Linked DNA regions of Homo sapiens. The protein of the gene in region 2 binds, or shares a complex with, the protein of the main gene of each other region. Each region holds a gene or a part of one and is shown on either strand. Other genes may lie near its edges. The genes, in order: BCAS2, SNRNP40 and SNRNP200.

The links.
Region 1: SNRNP40 (region 2) and BCAS2 share a complex: the UniProt entries of both Homo sapiens proteins name them as parts of the postcatalytic spliceosome P complex.
Region 3: SNRNP40 (region 2) and SNRNP200 share a complex: the UniProt entries of both Homo sapiens proteins name them as parts of the U4/U6-U5 tri-snRNP complex.

What each region holds. Positions count from the first base shown.
Region 1 is NC_000001.11:114,569,322-114,571,755, reverse strand, and holds part of BCAS2 (pre-mRNA-splicing factor SPF27), read left to right. Parts: intron 1-1,005; coding exon 1,006-1,056; intron 1,057-1,683; coding exon 1,684-1,764; intron 1,765-2,434. UniProt on the Homo sapiens protein: Required for pre-mRNA splicing as component of the activated spliceosome. Component of the PRP19-CDC5L complex that forms an integral part of the spliceosome and is required for activating pre-mRNA splicing.
Region 2 is NC_000001.11:31,286,714-31,290,368, forward strand, and holds part of SNRNP40 (U5 small nuclear ribonucleoprotein 40 kDa protein), read right to left. Parts: intron 2,707-3,655; coding exon 2,541-2,706; intron 1-2,540. UniProt on the Homo sapiens protein: Required for pre-mRNA splicing as component of the activated spliceosome. Component of the U5 small nuclear ribonucleoprotein (snRNP) complex and the U4/U6-U5 tri-snRNP complex, building blocks of the spliceosome.
Region 3 is NC_000002.12:96,284,908-96,288,562, reverse strand, and holds part of SNRNP200 (U5 small nuclear ribonucleoprotein 200 kDa helicase), read left to right. Parts: intron 1-593; coding exon 594-700; intron 701-1,005; coding exon 1,006-1,124; intron 1,125-1,402; coding exon 1,403-1,557; intron 1,558-1,685; coding exon 1,686-1,875; intron 1,876-2,078; coding exon 2,079-2,252; intron 2,253-3,222; coding exon 3,223-3,383; intron 3,384-3,655. UniProt on the Homo sapiens protein: Catalyzes the ATP-dependent unwinding of U4/U6 RNA duplices, an essential step in the assembly of a catalytically active spliceosome. Plays a role in pre-mRNA splicing as a core component of precatalytic, catalytic and postcatalytic spliceosomal complexes.

The DNA.
Region 1 (2,434 bases), about 83 Mb from region 2:
AATATAGAGATAAAAGGGGGTTGAGAAATAAAATAAGTGGGTACTCAGATATATTCCATCTTTTCTATGACAAGAAGTCATGACAGTTTAAGAAGTGACAAAAGGCCGTGTGGCTCACACATGTAATTCCAACACTTTGGAGGCTGAGGTGGGGAGATTGCTTGAGCCCAGGAGTTCAAGACCAGCCTGGACAACGTGGTGAAACCCTGTCTCTACAAAAAAGTAATGAAAATTAGCCGGGCATGGTGGCTTATGCCTGTAATCCAAGCTACTTTGAAGGCCTGAAGTGGGAGGATCAGTTGAGCCCAGGAGGTTGAGGCTGCCATGATTGCACCACTACACTCCAGCTTGAGCAACAGGAGAGCAAGACTCTGTCCCTCCCCTCCGCAAAAAAAAGCTGGGTACAGTGGCTCACGCCTGTTATCTCAGCACTTTGGGAGGCCGAGGCAGATGGATCACTTGAGGTCAGGAGTTCGAGACCAGCCTGGCCGACATAGTGAAACCCCATCTCTACTAAAAAAAAAAATACAAAAATTAGCAAGGCATGGCAGTACATGCCTGTAATCCCAGCTACTTGGGAGGCTGAGGCAGGAGAATCTCTTGAACCAGGAAGCAGAGGCTGCAGTGAGCTGAGATCTCACCACTTCGCTCCAGCCTGGGCAACAGAACGAGACTGTCTCAAAAAAAAAAAAGTAACCTAAGTACTCCAAGATCAGGCAGGGCATGGTAATCCCAGCAGTTTGGGAGGCCAAGGTGGGAGGATTGCAGCTCCTTGGGAGGCTGAGGCAGGAAGATTACTTGATCATGGGAGGTGAAGGCTGCAGTGAGCCATGATCACACCACTGCATTCCAGCATGAGTGACAGTCCTCGATTATGGAGTGTCCAACATAGTTCTTGGCACAGAGCTCCATAAATATGATTTTTGGCAGAAAAACTTGAAAAAGTTCACTTTTAATTGGTACTATTTTAATGTATTTTAATCTGATTTTCCTCTTTTCCTTCAGAAATCTAGTTCATATGATTGAACACGCACAGAAGGAACTTCAGAAGTTAAGGTAAATTGTTTTTTCCTATTACAGAATGAAGTTTAAGTGAACCTTTAATAAATAGAAAATAGGAGGAAAAAGAAAGCAAAGAGACTGCAGCCAGATGAAAGTAAACAATTGATCCACTCTCTTTGTTCAACATCTGACACTGGGTTTGCCCTACCTAAGTAGAGGAGAAATAGGCCTGAGGTCTGAAAACATCTCTGCCACTTGCAGCTTGCAAGTCTGCAAACATAGAAAGGCACTTTTAGAGTGGGAAAAGTTGCAGAATAACACATATAATCTGATTTTTAAAACCAATTTCTACACACACATATAGGAAAGCCTGGAAGGACACCCAGCAAAAACTCAACAGGAGTTATCAGGAAAAAGGAGACATGCATGAGAGGGGGGACTTGAGACTTGTAATCTGTGTGTGCTTGTGTGTGTGTGTGTGTGTGATTTCTCACAATGAGCATGTTTTATGAAACTTGTAATCAAAAAATAATTAGAAGAAAGGTAATTTCTACAGTTAGCCTATAACTGTACATAATATTGTTCTCATGGGATTAAGATATTCTCTTGTGTTATAGAGTTTTCTGTTGATTTAGGTCTTACATTAAAATGTAATTGGGTTGTATAAATAATTTTTTACAGAAAACATATTCAAGATTTAAACTGGCAGAGAAAGAACATGCAACTCACAGCTGGATCTAAATTGAGAGAAATGGAGTCAAAGTGAGTATCTATAATTCCATCATCTTTTAAATTGTTTAGCCCTTTCTAAGGTCGATTCAATAATATGATTCAAATAGCATTCAAATGGGATGCCACAGGTAACAAAGAAATGCTATTTTCTGAATTCACCCTTCCCCGTCTCTGCCTCTTTATAAGGTGTTAAAGAGAACTATAAACGAGAATTGAACCATTGGCGAAGGATCCTTTGCTAAATTGAACCATTGCTAAAGGATTCTGGTCTTAGAATACCCTGTTTTTAGTCTAGTATTTTTGGCCTTGAATAGAACTCTACCTTTATTCTCCTTTTAAACGGAAAAAAAAAAAAAATAGGCACGGTGGCACATGTCTGTAGTCCCAGCTACTCTGGAGGCTGAGGCAGGAGGATTGCTTAACCTGGAAGGTTGAAGCTGCAGTGAGTCATAATCACACCACTGCACTCCAGCCTGGGCAACAGAGCAAGACCTAGTCTTTAAAAAAAAAAAAAGGAAAAAAATTATTTTATAAAATCTTGTAGGGAGGGAGATTTCATACTTGGTAATTTTTTTGTACCTCAGGTTTATGCATTTTTAAAAATGTTCTTTTACATACACACATGTATACCTTTATACAATATAATCTTGAATATTTGTGTCATTTCTCTCTTCCTTTTTGCTTGGCCATTCCCTTTCTC
Region 2 (3,655 bases):
ACTGGTTACCTACCCTGTGTTGTATGGATGCCTTCCTCACTCTCTGACTACTCCCTACAATGTACTGCCCTGCCCAGTGTGGATGCTCTCCTTACCACACTTGTGCTCTGACACTCTACTCTGGGCCACCTTGGCCCATCTCTAACTAGAGCACCTTCCCTGCTTTGGCCTATATAACTGGCTTTAGGACTGAACTGCTCATGAAAGGGAAATTTATATATATATGAGTACATACACACATACACGCAGTATTTCACTTAATTTTATTAGAAGAATGCACTTGATAAAAAGTTTGAAAACGATCTGTATGAATAATGCCCAGAATGCTTTTAGACTAAAAATGCAAGTGCTGTTGGAAACCTTTGCTTTCTGTTAAGAACTCTGACATGTAAAAAGCAACATGACTTTTTTTCCTCTTAAACTGAAGTTATTCAATTCCTGTACTTGCAACCTAGTAACAAAAATACAAGAACACAAAGCATTCCAACTTCACAAGTAACTGAAAAGTACATTGCAAAAAGCTGTTTAATGATGCCTTAAATATAAATATACTGACATTAAAAATAGGAGCTGGTTAAAAAGCAGTCATCTTTAGGTGATGTGACATACTGCTTATTAAAAAAAGTATTAACTTGAGTAATAAGGTAAAAATAACTATTCCAAATCATGTTTAATTAAGGCAGAAGAGAAGCAAAAAACCAAAAGAAGGCAGACAGAAAGGACATATACTCTTTTTCTACTACCTAAATAGTTCCTAGATATTTATTACAGCAGGCCCTCAATAATAATGTTAACAAAATTCACTGGGGCATTTCCACCTCTTACTATCTTCTGAAATGACAATTAGTAAATCAGCTACTGTTAAGACTCTCCAACTACAGTGACATCTAGGTCAGAGCTCTGGTTTAGAAACCAATCTTAAACAACAGACTCTCCTCCCATCCAACCATCAAGGGGCCCCAAGTGATTAGGTATAAGAAAACCACTCAGTAGAAAAACGTCTCAGCCAAGTGTGGTGGCTCACGCCTGTAATCCCAGCACTTTGGGAGGCCGAGGGGGGCGGATCACAAGGTCAGGAGTTTGAGACCAGCCTGGCCAATATGATGAACCCCTGCCTCTACTGAAAATACAAAAACTAGCTGGGCGTGGTATGGGTCCCTGTAGTCCCAGCTACTAGGGAGGCTGAGGCAGGGGAACTGCTTGAACCCAGGAGGTAGAGGTTGCAGTGAGCTGAGATTGCGCCACTGCACTCCAGCCTGGGCAACATGGTGAAACCCCATCTCTACCAAAAATAGAAAAATTAGGCAGGTATGGTGGTGTGCACCTGTAATCCCAGCTACTCAAGAGGCTGAGGCTGGGGAATCACTTGAACCCGGGAGGTGGAGGCTACAGTGAGCCAAGATTGTGCCACTGCACTCCAGCCTGGGCGATAGAGCAAGACCCTGTCTCAAAGAAAAAAAAAAAAAAGCAAATTCATTAATTCATTTAAAAAGCAATAAGAAGTATGGGGGTGTAGTTTCCCAGATGTACTCTTTTGAAGTCCCTCACTGTTTAACAATTAAAATATAAACCAGAGCCCAAAATTCGTGTCAAAGAGAGAATCAAATGGTTGGTACTATGATGTACTGTGTCCTTGTGTGCCTCTGAGATAAATTATTATTTCTAGGCCTCAGTTTCCTTATTTATAAAATGAGGATGCTCAGTGAGATCAGTGGCTCCCAGAATGTGAGACTGGCTACACTGAATCACTTGAAGGACACATTAAAATATCTGATTCCCATTGCAGATCCACTGAACCAGATTCTTTGGGTATTTTTAACAGGTTCTTCAGGTGATGATGATATAAAGATAGGCTGGCAACCATCTGACTAAACGATGTTTAAGTTCCCATCTTGTGCCATACTAAAACTATTCACTGAACTTTTTATATATTGTCTATAATCTCAGAACAGCCTTTTTTTTTTTTTTGCTACCTCCCTGTTGGTGGAGATACTCATAACAGCCTTGAAAGACACGTATATTACTGTCACAGTTCTTTTTTTTGAGACAGAGTCTCGCTCTGTCGCCCAGGCTGGAGTGCAGTGGTGCAATCTCTGCAAGCTCCACCTCCCGGGTGCACACCATTCTCCTGCCTCAGCCTCCCAAGCAACTGGAACTACAGGTGCCCGCCATCACGCCCGGCTTATTTTTTGTATTTTTAGTAGAGACGGGGTTTCACCGTGTTAGCCAGGATGGTCTTGATCTCTTGACCTCGTGATCCACCCGCCTCGGCCTCCCAAAGTGCTGGGATTACAGGCGTAAGCCACAGCACCCGGCCTATTTCAAGTAACAATTTATTCTATGGTTCTATTATTATTCTGTAGGGTAATTAAAACTTGTATTAAATGTTTTATTTTAAATGGGGAAAAATTTCAAGTGTGTTATGGGAGATGACTGCTAAAATTAAGTTTTGCACAGGAAGCTAGAGTACAAGTGGCAAGGCAAGATAAGGTTCACATCACATCACCTCAGAAACTGGAACACGGAGAGACAATACCCACCTTAACTGTGCCATCGTCACTGCCAGTGCAGACAAGCTGAGGGCCTCTCCTGGCTGGATAACAGGAATTCACAAAGGAAGTATGTCCCTTTAGCCTTTTAACCCTCTCACCTGTTTCACTATCCCACACAGCCACGGTTTTATCTGTGGATGCTGAGAAAAGCATACTAGAAAGTAAGAGAAAGAATAAAAAAGAAATAAGTGAAGATAAACAGTAACAATCTATCTTTCCTACTTGACAAAAGGTGCCAAATTTTTCAAGATCACTGACCTGCTGTGCTACGCCAGTTTGCCCATGATGCTGGAATGCCTCACCCTACCAAAATCCTATTTGTCCTCTAGGCCCAGATGGCCCAGATAAAAGATCTACCCCTGTGAAGTTTAAAAAATTCCCCTTCTTTGAGTCCCCATGACATACATCTAATGTAGCAGTTTGCTCTATCTTTTCCTCTTTTGTGATAGCTAACATTTTAAACATAAGACACCCTCTCACTTGGAAATGTTTAATAACTCCCTGGTGCTGCAGAGATCAGACAGACTGTGGTACCGACCTGACAGCTGAGTGACTCCAATCTTTTCTCTTTACCAAAGTTTTTCTTTTGTCTCTGAGGACAATTTCTTTCTTTCATTTTTTTTTTGAGATGAGATCTTGCTCTGTCACCCGGGTTGGAATCATGGCTCACTGCAGCCTCGACCTCCTGGGCTCAAGTGATCCTCCCACCTCAGCCTCCTGAGTAGCTGGGACCACAGGTCTGTGCCACCATGCTCAGTTAATTTTTAAAAATCATTTGTAGAGGCAAGGTCTCACTATGTTGCCCAGGCTGGTCTTGAACTGGGCTCAAGCAATCTTCCTGCCTCAGCCTCCTACAGTGCTAGGGTTATAGGCGTAAGCAACCACGCCCAGCCTCTGAGGATGATTTCTAAGTTATAACTGATCTTATAATGCTTTCTTTTTTCATTTTTTTTGAGATGGAGTCTCACTGTGTTGCCCAGGCTGGTTTTGAACTCTTGGGCTCCAGGAATCCTCCTGCCTCAGCCTCCCAAATAGCTGGGATTATAAGCACATGCCACCAGGCCCAGCTTTCTAATGCTTTATTTAAAATGTATACAATGCTA
Region 3 (3,655 bases), on a different chromosome or scaffold from region 2:
ATGGGAGGAGTGCTTAGTTCTGCTCTTGCCGGGTAGTTGGTTGGTGCATGTGTGGTACAGCCACTCTGTAGTATACATCTTGAGCACGTGGGAAAGGTAAGACCTTAAGAGGGAATGCTTCGAGGCTCCACGGGCCCTCAGAGAGACAGGAAGAGCCACAGCACGCAGTGTCTGCTTCCCAGCAGCAAAGTGATTTCCCACTGTTGCTGCACAGCTCATAAATAAATCCAAAAATGGCACAGGGTTTTATTAGCTGCTCTTCATCTTTACCTCTAAGAACAGGTCACTGGTACCCTCAACTCTTCCTAGAACTCTAAATGCTAAATGACTCAAAAGCTTTAAAATCATGCAGTGAATGTTAGGTTAAAATGTTGTGCAGTGACCTTGAGCCGCAGCACTCTTCTAATTGTTCCCCATCCGGCAAGCATCTACTATATGGAACGGAGAAAGGCGTAAAGACAGAGGGGACTTTGCCTTTGAGTTAGGGTGGGTGGTTGTGTCAGAGCTGGAGGTAATGAAACCGTGTGTAGAGTGGCTCATGAGGCCTGGGGATAGTCGAGACTTAACAGTGGGAATGCTGCTTCTTTGCTTAGTCGGCTGGCCGGTTGATGCGAGCGATATTTGAAATTGTCCTGAACCGAGGTTGGGCACAGCTTACAGACAAGACCCTGAACCTCTGCAAGATGATCGACAAACGCATGTAAGGACCCAGTGAGCTGGATGCTGGTCACCATGAGTGGGGGTCCCCAACCCAAGGGTCTGATGGGAAAGCCTCAGGGTGCATCTGATCTCCAGACCTGACATCGGAAGTATGACCTGAACCTTGGTGCACATTGAGAAGAGGGAAGGCCCTCTGTGGTGGAGGCCAGGGCTGGCACAGTGTCAGTGTCTGCCTTTAATGACTGTGTTTTGTGTAGTCACTGCTAAACTATTGGAAGCCATGAAGTGGGTGGTTTGTCACATCCCTGCAGAAGGGACCAACAGCTTTGCCTCCTTCCTGGATAGGTGGCAGTCCATGTGTCCTCTGCGCCAGTTCCGGAAACTCCCTGAGGAAGTAGTGAAGAAGATTGAGAAGAAGAATTTCCCCTTTGAGCGTCTGTACGACCTGAATCATAATGAGATTGGTGTGTGGGATGCTCTCGCCCTTGTCCTCACTGCCTGGGTGTCTCTCCCAGTTTGCCTATGTAGTCTTCCTGTTCCTAGGCCTGTGCATTAGTATCCTGTGTTCACTCCCCAAGTCCCACTGAAGTACAGGCTGGCCCTTGGTCTGGGGACTTGGAATCCTGGGCTCCACTGACCATAAAGGGAAGACCCTACCCCTTTCCCACAGTGGCCCTCAGGCCCAGTTTGCAGTATAGTAGGCAGGCTGGGCTGCAGCCTCAGTACTCTCATTTCCTTGTAGGGGAGCTTATCCGCATGCCAAAGATGGGGAAGACCATCCACAAATATGTCCATCTGTTTCCCAAGTTGGAGTTGTCAGTGCACCTGCAGCCTATCACACGCTCCACCCTGAAGGTGGAGCTGACCATCACGCCAGACTTCCAGTGGGATGAAAAGGTGAGGCTTTGCTGGGCAGAGGTGCTGGATTGGAGGTGCTCAGTCTACGTTGCTGGGCCGAGGAGATGGATTGGAGGCACTCAGTCTACGTTGACTCACATTCCTTTTACCCTTGCTCCTGTTGGCAGGTGCATGGTTCATCCGAGGCTTTTTGGATTCTGGTGGAGGATGTGGACAGCGAGGTGATTCTGCACCATGAGTATTTTCTCCTCAAGGCCAAGTACGCCCAGGACGAGCACCTCATTACATTCTTCGTGCCTGTCTTTGAACCGCTGCCCCCTCAGTACTTCATCCGAGTGGTGTCTGACCGCTGGCTCTGTGAGTGTCTCCTCTCCAGAGTCCCCAGGAACAGTCCCTCCAAGGACAGTAGAAGAATGTCTTGCACTTTGTCCCGGGCTTGCCCTTGCTGGGGACAGAGTGATACATATGCTGCCTAGGTTTCCAGTGTTCATGGAGGGGATCTAGAGGCCAGTGAGGGAAAGAGAGCAGTGCTTATATCCTTCCTGTTTCTTTTCTGGCAGCTTGTGAGACCCAGCTGCCTGTCTCCTTCCGGCACCTGATCTTGCCGGAGAAGTACCCCCCTCCAACCGAACTTTTGGACCTGCAGCCCTTGCCCGTGTCTGCTCTGAGAAACAGTGCCTTTGAGAGTCTTTACCAAGATAAATTTCCTTTCTTCAATCCCATCCAGACCCAGGGTAAGTGTTTCCATCCCTCCTCTGGAGGCTTTTGAAGTCACCGGGAGACAGATGTGCTCTGTGGCAGGCAGGGGAGTGGGGGTGCTCAGGCACTTGGGAGGTCTGGGAGCTCCTCAGTGTGACCGCTGGGACCCACCAGGACTTTTTCCTTTGTCAGAAGCCTTTGGTTGCTTTGCTGCTCTGCATGTGTCACTGTGGAGGGGCAATAGAGCAAGGCCTTACATGGCATGGTCATTTCTCGGGCCCAGGAGGCTTAGAGGCCTGCCCCTGGCGCTCAAGTATTGAACCAGAACCATGGGGTGGCACTGAAGCCTCCTCACCACATCATGATAAATAACGGGGACATTCACAGAGCAGGCACTGTTTCCTCAGTCCATGGCTGAGTACATCACCGGTGTTTTCTCTCTTATTCCTCCCATCAAGCCTAAAAGGAATCTCTATTGGAGATACTGCCATTAGTGTTCCTTTTATAGGTGAGGAACTGAGGCATAGAGGGTTCCCCAGTTGAACCAACTGATAAATAGTAGAACTTGGATTTTAATTCAGTCTTGATGCCAGGGATAAGGCTCTTACTTTCTACCTTAGGCTATTTCTAGGAAACGCAGGAGAGTGTTGAAGGGGCAGAGAAAGGGATCCAGTTCCTTTCTGTCCCGCATCCTAGTCCCTGAGAAGCAAAGAAGAATGTGTGGCTTCTTTTGCTTTGCTTTTGTTGTCATCCCACACATCTCCAGGGGACCTGGGCTCTTGATCTTGGCCTCTTCCCCTTTAACTGTTAAGTGGGAGCAGGTAAGGGGGTACAGTAGGGCTGGCCTGGAGTTAGAGGCTTGGATGCCTTAGCTCCTCTGTCTGCACTCCAGAACTGCCTGACTTCATTTCGTATGTTGTCCTTTGTTTTGACAATTGATCCATGTCCCAGTCCGTCTCTTCTTCCTTCTTGATACTTACACTGCTTCTTTCTGTTGGTTTCCAGTGTTTAACACTGTATACAACAGTGACGACAACGTGTTTGTGGGGGCCCCCACGGGCAGCGGGAAGACTATTTGTGCAGAGTTTGCCATCCTGCGAATGCTGCTGCAGAGCTCGGAGGGGCGCTGTGTGTACATCACCCCCATGGAGGCCCTGGCAGAGCAGGTATGACGTGGCGCTGTGTCATGTGAATTTCCCAAGAAGCATTTCATCTGTGATTCCGTATGAAGGCTTTCTAAGCCCTGAAATTTGCAGGGTCATTTCCTCAGTTTGTGTATTAAAGAAAAGCTGCCCCAGCCAAGCGTGGTGGCTCACGCCTGTAATCCCAGCACTTTGGGAGGCCGAGGCGGGCAGATCTCCGGAGATCAGGAGTTCGAGACCAGCCTGGCCAACATGGTGAAACCCTGTCTCTACTAAAAATACAGAAATTAGCTGGG